Linked DNA regions of Homo sapiens. The protein of the gene in region 3 purifies or fractionates together with the protein of the main gene of each other region. This does not show direct contact. Each region holds a gene or a part of one and is shown on either strand. Other genes may lie near its edges. The genes, in order: AARSD1, ME1, RPUSD2, LZTFL1 and TBCD.

Evidence for each region.
Region 1: the proteins of RPUSD2 (region 3) and AARSD1 fractionate together in Homo sapiens (co-fractionation; one large-scale study listed by BioGRID). This does not show direct contact.
Region 2: the proteins of RPUSD2 (region 3) and ME1 fractionate together in Homo sapiens (co-fractionation; one large-scale study listed by BioGRID). This does not show direct contact.
Region 4: the proteins of RPUSD2 (region 3) and LZTFL1 fractionate together in Homo sapiens (co-fractionation; one large-scale study listed by BioGRID). This does not show direct contact.
Region 5: the proteins of RPUSD2 (region 3) and TBCD fractionate together in Homo sapiens (co-fractionation; one large-scale study listed by BioGRID). This does not show direct contact.

What each region holds. Positions count from the first base shown.
Region 1 is NC_000017.11:42,950,021-42,952,257, reverse strand, and holds the end of AARSD1 (alanyl-tRNA editing protein Aarsd1), read left to right. Parts: intron 1-363; coding exon 364-458; intron 459-1,529; coding exon 1,530-1,665; 3' UTR 1,666-1,732; downstream 1,733-2,237. Other genes in the region: PTGES3L-AARSD1 protein, read left to right, coding at 364-458, 1,530-1,665. UniProt on the Homo sapiens protein: Functions in trans to edit the amino acid moiety from incorrectly charged tRNA(Ala).
Region 2 is NC_000006.12:83,424,546-83,428,067, reverse strand, and holds part of ME1 (NADP-dependent malic enzyme), read left to right. Parts: intron 1-3,522. UniProt on the Homo sapiens protein: Catalyzes the oxidative decarboxylation of (S)-malate in the presence of NADP(+) and divalent metal ions, and decarboxylation of oxaloacetate.
Region 3 is NC_000015.10:40,572,288-40,575,460, reverse strand, and holds the end of RPUSD2 (pseudouridylate synthase RPUSD2), read right to left. Parts: intron 1,935-3,173; coding exon 1,200-1,934; 3' UTR 512-1,199; downstream 1-511. UniProt on the Homo sapiens protein: Pseudouridine synthase that catalyzes pseudouridylation of mRNAs.
Region 4 is NC_000003.12:45,828,609-45,832,130, reverse strand, and holds part of LZTFL1 (leucine zipper transcription factor-like protein 1), read left to right. Parts: intron 1-992; coding exon 993-1,058; intron 1,059-1,140; coding exon 1,141-1,218; intron 1,219-3,515; coding exon 3,516-3,522. UniProt on the Homo sapiens protein: Regulates ciliary localization of the BBSome complex. Together with the BBSome complex, controls SMO ciliary trafficking and contributes to the sonic hedgehog (SHH) pathway regulation. May play a role in neurite outgrowth. May have tumor suppressor function.
Region 5 is NC_000017.11:82,940,546-82,944,067, reverse strand, and holds part of TBCD (tubulin-specific chaperone D), read right to left. Parts: intron 2,670-3,522; coding exon 2,585-2,669; intron 2,579-2,584; exon of another isoform or gene 2,563-2,578; coding exon of another isoform or gene 2,014-2,562; exon of another isoform or gene 1,991-2,013; intron 1,920-1,990; exon of another isoform or gene 1,620-1,919; coding exon 1,605-1,619; 3' UTR 1-1,604. Other genes in the region: uncharacterized protein LOC124904095, read right to left, coding at 2,014-2,562.

The DNA.
Region 1 (2,237 bases), on a different chromosome or scaffold from region 3:
CAGACAAGGGGCAGAGGCGGCCAGGCAGAGGGAAACCTGGTGGTTTAGGCAGTGGCAGGGAAAGGATGTGTGGTGGGGAAAAGTTTGCAAGAGTGAAACCATGAAAGGCATTTTCTGCTTAGCCAGGATCAGCAGTCTTCTGCTGCCTTCTTAATGTTTCACCTAAGTTCCCATAGTTGCTCTCAAAAAGTTTCTTGGCCCTCGTGGGCCAGTGTGGAGGGGCTGTATCATCATTCATCAGGAGCGTCACTTGGTGGTTTAGGGGGAAATAATCTATTCTTAAGATTGAAGAGAGTGCAGGATTTGGGGGGTTGACTCTACATCCTTCAGTATCAGAGCTTATCTCCTTGTCTTACCTCCTAGGAGACCCTCCTGTTCTTAACTGTGGGCGATGAGAAAGGTGGTGGACTCTTCTTACTGGCAGGGCCACCTGCGTCTGTGGAGACCCTGGGGCCCAGGTAATTCTTTGTGGACTCTCTTGCACATGTAGTAGAGCCTGTATCCTACAAATACATTCCTTTACTGAGTCAAAGGACCATCACATCTGCGATCTCATTTAATTCACATCATGGGCATGTGAGGTGGGCTGAGCAGAGATAATTATTACTACTGTCATTTCCAGTTTGACAGTTGAAGGTCTTTTGGCTCCACATCTCACATGTATGTTTTTGTTTTTGTTTTTATGAAATGTGTTTGTTTTTGTTTTTTGAGATGGAGTCTTAGTCTGTTGCCCAGCCTGGAGAGCCCAGGCTACTCAGCTCACTGCAGCCACCACCTCCCAGGTTTAAGCAATTTTCCTGCCTCAGCCACTCAAGTAGCTGGGATTACAGGTGCACATAACCATACCCGTCCAATTTTTTGTATTTTTAGTACAGATAGGGTTTCACCATGTTGGCCAGGCTGGTCTCGAACTCCTGACCTCAAGTGATCCACCTGCCTTGCCCTCCCAAAGTGCTGGGATTACAGGTGCTCACCCTGCTCTCTGGAGATTAACATAATTTATCTAGCCCAATTCATAGACACTGATGTTGTTTCCAGTTATTCACTCTTATGTGATGATGGTACATATATCTTTGTGCATATGTGCAAGTGTTTTTTTGAGACAAAGTTTCACTCTTGTTGCCCAGGCTGGAGTGCAATGGCACCATCTCGGCTCACTGCAACCTCTGCCTCCCGGGTTCAAGCAATTCTCCTGTCTCAGCTTCCTGAGTAGCTGGGATTATGGCGCATACCACCATGCCCGGCTGATTTTTTTATTTTTAGTAGAGACGGGGTTTCATCCTATTGGTCAGGCTGGTCTTGAAGTCCTGACCTCAGGTGATCCACCCACTTTGGCCTCCCAAAGTGCTGGGATTACAGGTGTGAGCCACCATGCCCAGCCTATGTGCAAGTGTTTTCAAGAAAGATTCCTAGAAGTCATCTACTCTTCTTATCCCTCTCCCAGTCCCTGGAAAAAGACTCAGAGCTGCCCTTGTTTTTTTTTGTGACTTTTCCCTCAAAGTCTCCCTGACTATACCTCTGTTCCCCAGGGTGGCTGAGGTCCTGGAAGGCAAAGGAGCAGGGAAGAAAGGCCGTTTTCAGGGCAAGGCCACCAAGATGAGCCGGCGGATGGAGGCGCAGGCGCTTCTCCAGGACTACATCAGCACGCAGAGTGCTAAGGAGTGAGGGCTTAGGGCACTCACCTCCTGTTTCCACAGGAATCTTTTGGTCAATAAAATAGATTGACTCAGAATGGTTGCGCTACCACTTGTATTTATATGACTAATTCGTACTGTATACTCCATTGTGCTTGTGTGGTTACTTTCCGTTTATAAATAGATAATTTTCTAATTTAGTTCATGCACTGTAATGTTTAGAAGGTGGTGGATTAATTTATACCAAACCTTGTGCTTTTGCACTCAGTTGGATAAGAAATGAACATCTGATCAGCTGAGTCCACTGCTCCCATAATTTTGTTATAATCCACAAAGGCACATGGCTTTTTCCCGCCCCTACCGCCCCACCCCCTGAGATGGACTCTTGCTTTGTTGCCCAGGCTGGATATAGTGGTGTGATCTCAGCTCACTGCAACCTCTGCCTCCCGGGTTGAAGGGATTTTCCTGCCTCAGCCTCCAGAGTAGCCAGGATTACAGGTGTGTGCCACCATGCCTGGCTGATTTTTTTGTTTTTGTTTTTTGTTTTTGTTTGAGATGGAGTCTCGCTCTGTCACCAGGCTGGAGTGCGGTGGTGCGATCTTG
Region 2 (3,522 bases), on a different chromosome or scaffold from region 3:
TACTATATAATTTTGTATTTACTAACTTGTCTTTTTATTTTCCTTTTTTTTTTTTTGAGACAGAGCCTTGTTCTGTTGCCCAGGCTGGAGTGCAGTGGTGTGATCTAGGTTCACTGCAAACTCTACCTCCTGGGTTCAAGTGACTCTTGTGCCTCAGCCTCCTGAGTAGCTGAGATTACAGGCATGTGCCACTATGCCCAGCTAATTTCTATATTTTAATAGAGACAGGGTTTGGTCATGTTGGCCACGCTGGTCTCAAACTCCTGACCTTAAGTGATCTGCCCGCCTCGGCCTCCCAAAAGTGTTGGGATTACAGGCGTGAGCTACTGCACCCGGCCATAAGTTGTATTTTTTTTTCTTATTTCTTTGATTGTCATAGGGCAGGAGTCACAATATTTAGTACAGTATTTTGCTCAGTAGACATTAAATAAATGTTTACTTAATGAATGAGCCATGTCTTTATTTTTGTCTTTAAACAGAACTCAGCTTTTAAAGTGATAGTTTAGGCATTGTCCTCTTTAAAGTAATTTTGTGAAAATAAATTCACATTGAAGTCTAAAGTTTAGTTCACTTCCTATGCCATTATATAGTATGCTGAAATGTAGTCAGAAAAGTTGAAATGTGGTTTAAGCTTGATAATCTCATGAAATTTTAATTACTTGCTGGATAACCTAAGGGAGGTGCTTCATCTTGGTAAAATCAAAGTTAACAGTAGATATGGTATGAATTCAAAAATTTTCAAAAAACTTAAGAGAATTAGGATCTTCATTTGTTATGATTCATGTATGAGTCTAAGCCTTACTATTTGTTTGTATTAAAATATGCATCATTCAAGGTAGGATTTCATCAAAACAATTGGGGAAGTAAATCTGCCTCATGTTTATGAGATTTAATATTTTTCTGTGCATAGCCCTAACTATTTTTGAGATGCTTATCTTTGCCGGTTTTATATAAATGTGTCTAATTTAATGTTTAATGTTTTTTATTTTCAGGGATATGGTCTAATATAGATGAGTTGTGTTTTAAATTTTTTTCTCAATAATTTTCATGTGACTAATAATATTTCATAAATTGCCCTTCAAAATTAAAATTCTACACATAATAAAATAATCATGCCTATTTTTTATTCTCAATTAGTTTATTTCCCTTTGCAATGGTAGAAAACACTAATTGATAGTTCTATCATAATTGTGCTTACATGGTTTCTATATCTTAAGAGTAAATAATAACATGACCCATAAGTAAATCTCCAAACAACACCACTCTTCCATATTTTAGGCAGTTTGGTTCAGTATAAGTCATGTTTAAGAGTTACGTTCCAGTAGAAGATAGTGTTTTATCGAAGTTAATTTGGGTCATCATTACTAACTTTTACATCTAAAAAATCAGCTTTTGTAGCTGTTTGTTTCCTGGCATGACAAGACCTAGTTGGGTGTGTTGTAAGAAAGAGAGAGAAATAAGATTCATGGCAATGAAGGAAAAGTACCCTAAACCTCTTTTTCTTCAATGTAAACTAGACCTGAATGAATTATTCAGAAAATTTCATCCAACCACATTCTCTAGAGTTGCCTCTGCAACGTGAGAAACTGATTTATTATTTAACATAGAATCCCACTTATGTGAAAGTCATATACAGCCAGGTACCTCTGTATATGTTTGTTACCTTGCTGCAGTGGAAACAACAGTAGTAGTATAGAATATCACAATAACAAAATGTGTGCTGTAATAAGAAAGGTGAGTTTGATATGGTAACTCTTGAGACAGGTGATATGGAGTATAAAAAATATTGAAGAAAGGAATGGATTTGAGATTTTGCCTTTTTCAGCTCTGATTTCCCTCTAACTTTTGGACAGGTAGGGGAGAATGTGATGTAAAGGAATGGACATTCTAAAACTTTGTGCCTAGAAGAAATGAGCCCAAGTCCCAAGCCTCCCAATTAGCTGTGTGATATAGCATCTGGGAAGGTCCTCCTTGCTACATCATCCCATGGCGGAAGGCAAGATGGTAGAGGGTGAGAAGGAGCAAGAGAGGGCTGAACTTGCTTTTATAAAGGAACCCACTCTTGCTTGCAATAACGAACCCACTCCTGCATTAACAATACTAGTCACCTCATAAAAATCCCACCTCTTAACACAGTTGCATTGGGGATTAACAACACATGGACTTTTGGGGACAGATTGAAACCATAGTAGGAAGTCAGGTAATATAATAATGAATAATGTTCTCTAAAAACATGAGAATATAACTGCTAGAGCTTTTCTACTAATATACAGACCCTGGATTTAAAAACACTGGTATTATTTTTTCAATAATCAGGTAATGGTTGAGTAAGAACATCGGCAAAAATACTTGTGTGTTTGATATGGTTTGTCTGTGTTCCTACCCAAATCTCATCTTGAATTGTAGTTCCCATAATCCCCATGTGTTGTGGGAGGGACCCAGTGGGAGGTAATTGAATGATGGGGGTGGTTACCCCCATGCTGCTGTTCTCCTGGTAGTGAGTGAGTTCTCACGAGATCTGATGGTTTTATAAGGGGCTTTCCCCCCTTTTGCTCATTCTTTTTCCTGCCGCCATGTGAAGAAGGATGTGTTTGTTTCCCCTCCCGCCATGATTGTATGTTTCCTGAGGCCTACCCAGCCATGCTGAACTGTGAGTCAATTAAGCATCTTTCTTTATAAATTTCCCAGTCTTGGATATGTCTTTATTAGTAGCATGAGAACAGACTAATACAGTATTCATACCAATGTTAGTAATTATGTTATCAGGCTAGTTGTGATGGCTCACACCTGTAATGCCAGATGTGAGCCACCTGGGAGGCCGAGGTAGGAGGATCACTTGAGCCCAGGAGTTCAAGACCAGACTGGGAAACATAGCAAAATCCCATCTTTACAAAAAAGAAAAAAAAATACAAAAAGCTGGGCATGGTGGTGTGCACCTGTAGTCTCAGCTACTTGAGTGGCTGAGGTGGGAGGCCACAGTGAGCCATGATCACACCCACTGCACTCCAGCCTGTATGACAGATTGAGACCTTGTCTCAGAAAAACAAAACAAAGCAAAACAAAACAAAAGAATAAAACCTTAGAGATCCAGAGGCTGAAGGAGTTCTAAGACTTCCATTGTACTATTAGGCATTGGCCCTTTAAGCTTAGAATATATTTAAATACATTTAAATTGTCTATTCAGAGTCTTAAGATGGCCATCTAGTAAGTCCAGGAGAGAAGCCATAGAATAAAATCAGCCCTCCAGACACCTTGATTTTGGACTTCTATCCTTCAGAACTTTGATAAAATAAATTTATGTTTAAGCCACCCAGTGTGTGACGCTTTGTTGTGGCAGCCCTAGCAAACTAATGATATACTTCTGTAATTGAAGCAAAATTTCATAATACAGCACTTTCCCTTGCTTTGTTTAGTAGACATTTTCTGGACTTTGACAGGAACATGTAGGTGAGAAGCAGTAATGATCTAATCAGTCAGGTTTGCTTGTAGCCATTGCCAATTTTTGACAATCTCTGTCTTTTG
Region 3 (3,173 bases):
TTGGGCTGTTAGTCTTTTTGCTAAGACTCTCACATCCAGAATATATAAAGAACACTTACACTCCACAACAAAAAGACTAACAACCCAGAATGAGATGCCACTTCACTCCTACTAGGATGACTATAATCAAAACAAAACAAATGTTGGTGAAGATGTAGAGAAATTGAAACCCTATGCTTGCTGGTGGCAATATAAAATGGTTCAGCTGCTGTGGAAAAGTTTGGTGGATTCTCAAACATTTAAACATAGAATTACCATATGACCCAGCAATTCCACTGTGAGGTATATACCCAAAAGAACTGAAAACATATTTAATGTTCACAGCAGCACTATCCACAATAATGAAATGGTGGAAACAACCCAAATGTCCATTAACTGATGAACAGATAGACAAATCGTGGTATATCCATACAACAGCTTATTCTGCCATAAAAAAAGAATGAAGTACCGATACATGCTACAAGTTGAATAAACCTTGAAAACATTATGCCAAGGGAAACAGAGACATAGGTCACATGTTTTATCATTCCATTTATATAAAATGTCCAGAATAAACAGGCAAATCCAAACAGACAGAAAGTAGATTAGTGGTTGCCAGAGGCTGGTGGAAGGGGAGTGGAAAGTGACCACTTACTTAATGGGTACAGGTTTCCTTTTGGGGTGATGAAAATGTTTTGGAAATATATGAGGTTATGGTTGTACAACACTGTGAATGTACTAAATGTGACTACGCTGTACATCTTAAATTGGTTAATTTTTTTTTTTTTTAAGAGACAGGGTCTCACTCTGTCACCTAGGCTCTGGAGTGCAGCAGCACAATCACAGTTCACTTTAACCTTGAACTCTTGGCCTCCAGTGATCCTTTCACTTCTACCTCCCAAAGTACTAGGATTATAGCCATGAGCCACTGTGCCTGGCTAGTTAAAGTGGTTAATTTTATGTTATGTGAATTTTACATCAGTAATAAAAAAGAAGCCGGAAGAAAACCAGACATCAAAGATGTTAGAAAAAGGGATATATTTACAAACCAAAAAGTCTCCAAATTCCCACTGGAAGGAGGTAGCAAGTATGAGCAGGTCTCTTTAGAAGCCCGTCCTCATTCCTATAGAAACCCCAAGTACTAGCCCATGGGGTCAGCCCTTGCCCTATAGCCCATCCTTGTCACAACCCAAGAAGCAATCCCTCCATTGGCCACACCCTCAGTCCTTTTGCCAGTCATCCTGTGCCCAGGCAGGCATTGGTGAAAAGTACTCAAAGCCTGGCCCTTTATAGCGTAGGGCATGTAGGAACATCACAAGGTCTTGGGGCAAGGGATCCTGTCGCACCAGCCGGCACTCTGCACAGAGTGGGTCTGTCTCTTGATTCATGACATCTGTTTCAACTGCCTTCTCTGATGCCAAGGCTATTGTGTCCAACTCCTGAGGGGCTGCCTCAGCTACTTCCTCCATCTTCTGGGCAGCTGCAGCCAACTCTTCCAGGTCGTCCTTGCCCAACTCTGAGGAGGGGGCCGTAGAGTCTGTGAGTCCTGGGGACAGGTCACCCTCACAGAGATCTAGCACATCCAGGCTCTGTTTGGCCTGGTGCTCTGCTACCAGGTCCCGTAGCAACTCCTCGTTTGTCTTGGGAATGTAGCCGCCCCGGCCTCGAGAAGGACCCCAGGCAACTGAGTTGTAGATGGGGTCGTTGAGAATGGGATGGCCCAAGAACTGAAGGTGGACTCGAATCTGGTGTGTGCGGCCTGTGAGTGGCCGGCACCGTACCACACTGGACTGGCCATTGTAGCTTAGCCTCTGGAACACTGTCTCACAGGGCTTGCCCCGGGGATCTACACGGCACACCCCTACTTTGTAAGACACCACTAAGATGGGTTCTTTACAGGTCACTTCCTCAGTGGGGAACTCCCCTTCCACCCGGCACACGTACTCCTTCTCCAGCTACATAGGAGGGAAGAGGGAGAAAGTCAGTACAAAGCCTAAATTCATGGAGTCCAAACTCTTTGTGGAGTGATAAGGACCAGTGTCAGAAAATTCAAACTCCAGCTCTACCATTCGCCAGTTTTGCGATCTTGGGTACATTACTTAACCTCTAAATCCTACTAACTCATCTAGAAAATGTGAAATTAGAAAAGCATTTACCAGCTGGGTGAGGTGGCTCACGCCTGTAATCCCAGCACTTTGGGAAGCTGAGGTGGGTGGATCACCTGAGGTCGAAAGTTCGAGACCAGCCTGACCAACATGAAGAAACCCCGTCTCTACTAAAAAATACAAAATTAGCCAGGCGTGGTGGCGCATGCCAGTCATCCCAGCTACCTGGGAGGCTGAGGCAGGATAATTGCTTGAACCCAGGAGGCGGAGGTTGCAGTGAGCCAGGATCACACCATTGCACTCCAGACTGGGCAACAAGAGCGAAACTCCATCTCAAAAAAAAAAAAAAAAAAAAAGAAAAGAAAAGAAAAGCATTTACCTCATTGGGCTGTGATAAGCATTCAGTAAGTTAGGCTCTAATGTGCTTGATACTAAGCCTGGTATATAGCATGCACTCAATAAATGTATTATGATTCAGATCCAGAATTACAAGTCTCAGGACAACAATCATTACCATTAAACTCCTCTACCCAAGACTTTTCCAACTACATCTAGAATCTTTTCACCAAGCAGGCTCTCCCCATAATCTTAAAAGCCTTGCTCAGCCTGTCAGCACTTTATTTTCTTATGTTAATTTATTTCTTTGAGACGGAGTCTTGTTCTATAGCTCAGGCTGGAACGCAGTGACATGCTCATGGCTCACTGCAGCCTCAACCTCCCATGGCCAAGTGATCCTCCTATCTCAGCCTCCCAAGTAGCTGGGACTACAGGCATGTGCCACCATGCCAGGGTAAGTTTTTTTTTTTTTTTTTGAGACAGAGTCTCACTCTGTCACCCAGGCTGGAGTGCGGTGGCGCGATTCGGCTCACTGCAAGCTCCACCTCTTGGGTTCACACCATTCTCCTGCCTCAGCCTCCCGAGTAGCTGGGACTATAGGTGCCCGCCACCACGCCCAGCTAATTTTTTGTATTTTTTTTTAGTAGAGACGGGGTTTCACCGTGTTAGCCAGGATGACCTCGATCTCCTGACCTCGTGATCTGCCCGCCTCGGCCTCCCAAAGTGTTGGGATTACAGGCGTGAGCCACTGCG
Region 4 (3,522 bases), on a different chromosome or scaffold from region 3:
TCCTGCCTCAGCCTCCGAGTAGCGCCTGCCACCACGCCCGGCTAATTTTTTGTATTTTTAGTAGAGATGGGGTTTCACCATGTTAGCCAGGTTGGTCTTGATCTCCTGATCTTGTGATACGCCCGCCTCGGCCTTCCAAAGTGCTGGGATTACAGGTGTGAGCCACCGTGCCCGGCCAAAAATGTAATAGTTTTATTGGGAAAGTAGAACTGATGTTCTAGAAATAGAGACCAGAGAATATTCTCCTGTGTGCTACAGGTGTCATACTGGGTAGCAGAGAAGACTCAGTTGTGTGTGGATAACAGTAGGTGAGAACAGGCTCTTGGGTAAAGGGGTACCTAAGCTGGGCCTTGAAGGATGAAGACCAGTTAAATTGTAGAGGAAAGAGAAGTGAGTGTGTTGGGCAGGAGAACAGAACAGGCAGTGGTCAGACAGGAGGCGGCATGACTTGAAACAGAGTGCAGTGCCCTCTGACTGGGCTGATGTGTTTATTTGAGTCTACTGAAAAATAACACAGATGATTCAAATGTTTGAGCTGTATAAGAACAAAAGTGTTTGGCCTCACCTCAGTCAGAAGCATCTGTGGGCTTGAGCATGGTACTGAAGTGAAGGAGTTCTCAGGATAAGGGGCAACAGTGTGCAGTGTAGGCTGAGAATAGACCCAGGATTTGCAGGACCAGCTAGGAGAAAGTTGGCAGGGAAGCGGGTCTTTGGAAAAAAATTTGAAAACAGAAAACAGAGGACTGAAAGAGGGAAGATGTGTCTGAGAAACTGAAAGAAAAGAAACTAGATGTCTTAGATCCAAAGCTGACTCACAGATACTGAGGCTGATAGGCTGGATGAAATTGGGATATTACCAAAATATCAGTAGTACATTTTTGAGCTATTATGTAATTTAAATTTAAAAATTAGATTTTTAAGTGAAACAAGTAATAATTTCAAATATTAAAATATTTTGGTTAATATAATAAAATTTGAATTTACTCACAAAGGAAATTTTAAGACTTCAAGAAGAGAATGAGAAATTGAAGTCAAGGTTGAAGACCATTGAAATACAGGTAACTGAGAAATGTTTTGACACAATTATTGAACTGCCTACAGATTAAATACTGAAAGTGTTTTGTTTAAACTTCACTATAGGCTACAAATGCACTGGATGAAAAGTCAAAACTAGAAAAAGCACTGCAAGATTTACAGCTTGATCAAGGAAATCAAAAGGTGAAACAAGTTTTAGCTACCTTTCTCACATTTTCTAAGTAGAATGAAGTTATAAACTTAAAATTAAGTCTTAGTTACTGCTCACTGTACCCCACCCCTGCTACTCCCTGAGACAAATGCCTCTATTGTCATGTGTTGGGACATTCTTGCCCCCAAAAGGCCTGGTGAGAACCAGTGACCTTCCCTCTGTCCATCCTCTAGGGCAGAGGGGACAGTACATAGCTCACACACCTGCAGTTTCCCTGGCATGCAAGATATTCTCACATTTATTTTTTAAGTTTTTCTACAATCTTCCTGGTATGCAAGATATTCTCACTTTTTTTTTTTAAGTTTCCCCTCTCACTTTGACATCCAATTACAGTGGAGGGGAAAGAAAATGAAAAGAAAAGTTTTTAATTGGTTTATATTTGGGTTTTATTATACTGAACATTACTTAAGTTTGCCTTTGATGAGTGTGACAAAATGATTATGAATCTGCAGATGCGTCTGTACCCGCCGGCACCATAGAGTACAATGAAATCCAGTGTTGTAGTTCTTCATGCTTGTCTGAATGTAATGACTGAATGTCACTCCGCCTGCGGGAAGTCATTGTATGTACAGTCTGTCTCCTGTGGACTTTCTGTTGAGTGTGCATGCTGCAGTATGATTTCCTGTGAGCAGGACCATTTGGGTAGATATTCAGTACAGCATTGGCTTTTCTAGTGGTCATACTCTCATTGCAAATGTCTGGTAAACAAACCCAAAATCTGCTTCACTGGGCTTTTGCTAATCTTTTCTCTATGAAAAATTTCAAACATACACAAAAGTAGAGAGAATAGTATAATGAACCCCCATGCACTCTTCACTCTATTTAGCAGTTACCAATGCATGGCCAGTCTGGTTTCATTTGTACCTCTACTTTCTTCTTCCCACCAGCCATGTTTTTTTGAAGCAAATCTCAGACGTTGAACCATTTTATCTGTAGATATTTTTAAAATAGGAGGATACTTCTTATATAGCTAATGATTTTCAACCATTATATGCCAATGACAATAGATTTATAAAAACACGAATGTTCCAGAACCGCTTTATAATTTCTCCTAAGTCAAACAATTGCAAACACATGTGGCTGATGAATTTGTTTAAAAGCTTTTTGGGGCTTTGCTCCAATTTTACTTTAAGATTTTGGACACAAGAACAACCAGTGAATACGTGCTTTTATTAGTTGCAATGAAAATCTTTTTTTCAAAGACCAGATTTCAAAAATGAGGAAAGATTTTTTTTTTCTTCTGTTGAAAGTACTTTTTTTTTTTTTTTTTTTTTTTCTTTTGAGACAGGGCCTTATTCTGTTTCCCATGCTGGAGTGCGGTGGTGCAACCATGGCTCACTACAACCTTGACCTCACCGGCTCAAGCGATCCTCCCACCTCAGCCTCCCAAGTGGTTGGGACCACAGGCATGTGCCACCATGCCTGGCTAATTTTTTATATTTTTTGTAGAGACGGGGTCTTGCTCTGTTGCCCAGGCTGGTCTCAATTTCCTGGGCTCAAGTAGTCCTCCTCCCTTGGCCTCCTAAAGTATTGGAATTACAGGCGTGAGAGCCACTTGAAAGTACTAAGTATTTCTTCATCTACATATTAACCAATTGTAGACCATTTTACTGTCTTATCAGTACAAATGTTTTTTCTGTCATGAATCTTATCCAGTCAAAAACAAGATCCAGGAAGAGAGAAGATCCAGTGCCTGTCTTATGCTATAGTTGTCAAAGTATGCAAAAATTACACATATCTCATGAATATAAAAAACTTAAAATCTTAAAAATTTAGAAAACCATGTAATCAGTAATTGTGCTCTCATATTATTTCCTTGTAAATAATGACTAAAACATATGTCTATTAAGTTTTTGGTATAAATTATATTACTTTTATCATTTTTTCTATCATTTTGAAGAATTCAAACTTCTTTGAGGATTTTTTTAAATTTGGCTTTTCAAAATGAAACCTGTTTGCCATCTCAACCCTGGTACACACATCTTGGATGGAAATACCAGCAGTTCACAAATCATATTTTATGTATTTGGAATTCAGTGGCTACTGAGTGTCGGCTGTGTGCAAGACACCACGTACCCAGGGCTGACAATGGACTGGCCTGCTGGTGACTCTGAAGGGGCTGGCACTTACCTAGGCTGGCAAGGGAGGCTGGCATGCACACAAAACATACATCATTTTTTTCATCTCCTATGATGTTGAATCACCATTCTAAAACAGTTATTTTTAGAATATCAACATGAAATTACATGCATGCATTTATTTTTCATAGGATTTTA
Region 5 (3,522 bases), on a different chromosome or scaffold from region 3:
TGTTCCTTCCATCCTCAGTGCATCCCAGGCCAGCAGGAGCTTTGTGAGCTGCAGGCATGGCGATGGTGCGCCTGTTCCACACCCAGCAGGCGCAACCAGAGTCTCGTGTGTGCCGACCACAGGAGCCAAGCCTTTTCCACTGTGTGGACTCATGTGGCCAAGGCTAGGCCTGGTCACCCAGGACCCTCACCACGTGACCCCAGCCAATCGGGACAGTTCAAGGAGGAGGAGACCCCTATTACACAGGTTGGAATAAAATATTTAAATCTCGTAAAAATGTAACCCAAGGCTCTTTTAGGGTATAAAGACCATTGGCCACCAGGTCAAACACAACAACAGTAGTGTGTTAACCCCACACTCCTGTGTGGCCAGGTCGTCACACACATCCCGTGAAGAGCTGTCTGCTAAACACACAGCACGGACTGTCACAGTCCTGGTCTTGTGGTCCTGGTGACCTCACAAGCCTCACAGATGCGGTGGCACCTCCCAGTTCTCGGCCTGCCCATGTTCCTGTGTCCAGGCCCCATCCCCACCTGAGAGCAGGCCAGGGAGCCACCCTAATCTACACCACGCACATGGCACCCCTGGGCTCCTCACATAGGGAAAGGGTTGCTCACCCAAGCCCTTGGGCCTCTGAGTGGCCACACCTGGGGCTGCTTTGGTGCTGCTGGCCGTGGTTCTGCACCTCAAGCCCTATGAGCACAGCACAGGTCCCAGAGATGGGTGTGGGTTGCTACCACAGTGAAATTTTTATACACGTTCCCCTCACCAGCTTTGGGATGGATCAGCACGAGCTCAGACACAGAGACAAAGGTAGCCTCCTGCCCTTTGCCTAAAAACCCAAGTGTGGACTCTGCCCAGGCTCTCCTAAGACAGTGTAATTATTTCAAGAATGGTATTTATTTCCGACATTACTGTAGAGGCACACATTGGACTCTGACGATTCCCCTTGCAGCAGACATTTGTGAAGCTGCTGGTCGGCACACCCATCAATCAGTGACTCCTGCACTGCAGAGGGGCCACATGCACGATGCTCACGTGTGCACAGGGGGGAGGACAGCACCCCCACCAGGCAGACGGGCCCAGAAACAGCATCTGCCCAGCACTCCAGACCATGCCTGCCACCAGGGCTTCTCAGTTCTCTAGCATTTGAACCTCTGATTTAACATTCATCTCTCTCCAAGACTGGGTGGGGCACTGCCTGTGGCCAGACGTCTCCCACAGCAGGGACAGCACCAGGCAAGAAGGGGGCCTGGTCTCCAGGCAGGAGGAGTGCAGCCCACCTCCCCTCTGGCTGACCCCTGGGCAGTGAGCCTTTCCATCACCCCTACACACATCAGGCTCAGAGACAAAAGGCAGGAACTTCTTGGTACATGATTTTATAGGAAGCACATTTGTGTTCAAGTGAAGGCAGAGGCGTCCACCCCAAGTCACCAGAGCGCAGGTGCAGAGAGGAAAAGCTGTCAGCTAGTGCCAGCCTCCAAGGGCCAGCGCTACCCTTCAACAGCTGGAGGCACCACTGTGCGAGGCTTTCCACACCGGCCTCCCTCAGGAACAAGACATCCTCACCAGGCAGGGGTGAGGTATGGGCTCCAGGACTGGCTTCAGCAGGCACCAGGCTGAAGAAGAGACAAGACAAGCTCAGGCTGGTCAGCTCCAACACACACCATTCCCAGCCAGGGGACCCTCACCCCTCTGGGCCCTGTGTGGGGACTGACACGGTTCCTGCAGGAAACCATTTGTGCCGTTTCCCACACACCCGGCAGCCTGAGCTATGTGGCTGACAGGTGCTCATGACTAACGTGTCCTCGGAAGGGCACCCCATCTGGGGAGCGGGAAGGGAGGTTCACTGCACTGCTCTTAACCTGCATTCACACGTTTGAAATTTTTCCTAATAAAAATGTAAAAAGCACATTTAATTCCAAAGTCTGCTGTTGAGTTCAGCCTTTACACACACAGAAATGGGGGAGGCTGTGTCCTGATGCTCAGCCCATCCCCACTGCCCCCATGTATCTAGACATGGTTCTCCTCCTCCCTCTCAGATATAACCTCCTGCCGGAAGGAGGCTGAGAGGAAGGAGCCAACCCTGGTAACTAGAGAGACAGCACAGCAACCCTGGGCCCCAGCCCCCGAGAGAACTGAGGTACTTGTTTTTGTTACTTTAGAAGAGTGACGGGCTGGTGAGGTGCACAGGGGCAGCTTCTGGGGGCCTCTCACCCAGCCCCGGCCCCACTCATGGGAAGCAGATGAGGAGGGGTAGGGTGGCACTCTTGGCACTTGGAGCACAAACAGACCCCAGGGCCAGGCATGAGGAGCCTGGATCAAGCTGGTGCCAGCTCCACCCACTCCCCGGCCCCCCAAACGCCCCAGAGCAAGTGGCCTGGATGCCACAGGGGCCCACAGGTGTGGGCAGTGGCCAGAGAAGGCAGCTCTGCTGGTCCCGTAATCCCAGGGGTCCTGACATGAGACGAGGGAACGGGCCGTGTGGACGTGCTGGCAGAAGCTAAGCACAGCCGCTGGCCCCAGAACATTCCAGAGCTCAGGGAAGCACAGGCACCTCATGCTGTGAAGGTGACAGGGTTACCTGGGGCACCAGCTGGGGCCTGGGTACGCCCAGAAGGTCACACAGACGGTTGCGCTGCTCTCTCACCACTGCAAGCTCCGCGTCCCTGTGAGGAGAGGGAGAGCCGTGAGTCTCTCGAGTGCCCACCGGAGAACCTCAGGTGTGCGGAGGTCCCGCGTCAAGCTTCCATGGCCGCAGTCAGGGAAAGGAGACCTCACCCCCGACATCCATAGCCAGGCTGAGGGCAGAAAAGACGTCACAGGAGCACGTTCTCCAGCAGAGCCTCGAGCCTGAGCCCTTTCCGGAATCGCAGGAGGACGGTTCCTTCCCAACAAGGGGTGCCCCTCGGGAAGGACCACGCCCAGCGCAGGGACTGCGGGAGGACAGACCAAGCGAGGCCAAGGAGGGGCTGACAAGGGTTTTCCAGGTTTTAATTTAGCTGTTGATGCGAAATAAAAATTCTAGCAATGCTGTGGAGATATCTGGGGCATGTTTTTCGTTTCTAATTTAAAATATTCTCTTTAAATTCTAAGGATTTTTTTTTTTAACAGAAAGGGGATTAAACGATAGGAGAAGCCCCCAGGCCCACCCTGCTAGTTCCTCCCTCCCTGATGTGAGGAAAGGAGGCCACCCCGACCCAGCCTCGCTGGAGGAGGCCTCGCCCCGCTCGGGACACCTGGCTTCTTCAGTCCTAAAGCCAATTATTTTAGAATCTGGTCCAGAATGCACCTTGGTGTTTTTTTTTAAAAAAATCATTGTAAAAACGGGTCTCCAGAGCAGTAGTTAAGATGGCCATTCTCTCAACGCATGTTGAGAAGACAGCCCAGCTGCTCCCGGTTCCTCTCCTGGGACCACGTGTTTGTTTAGGAGCAGACACACACTCCTCCCCAAACCAGAAAACCTCGCGGAAGCCCTGGAGAGGCCACCTCTGTCCTCCGAGGCCACAGCGGCTGCCTGGT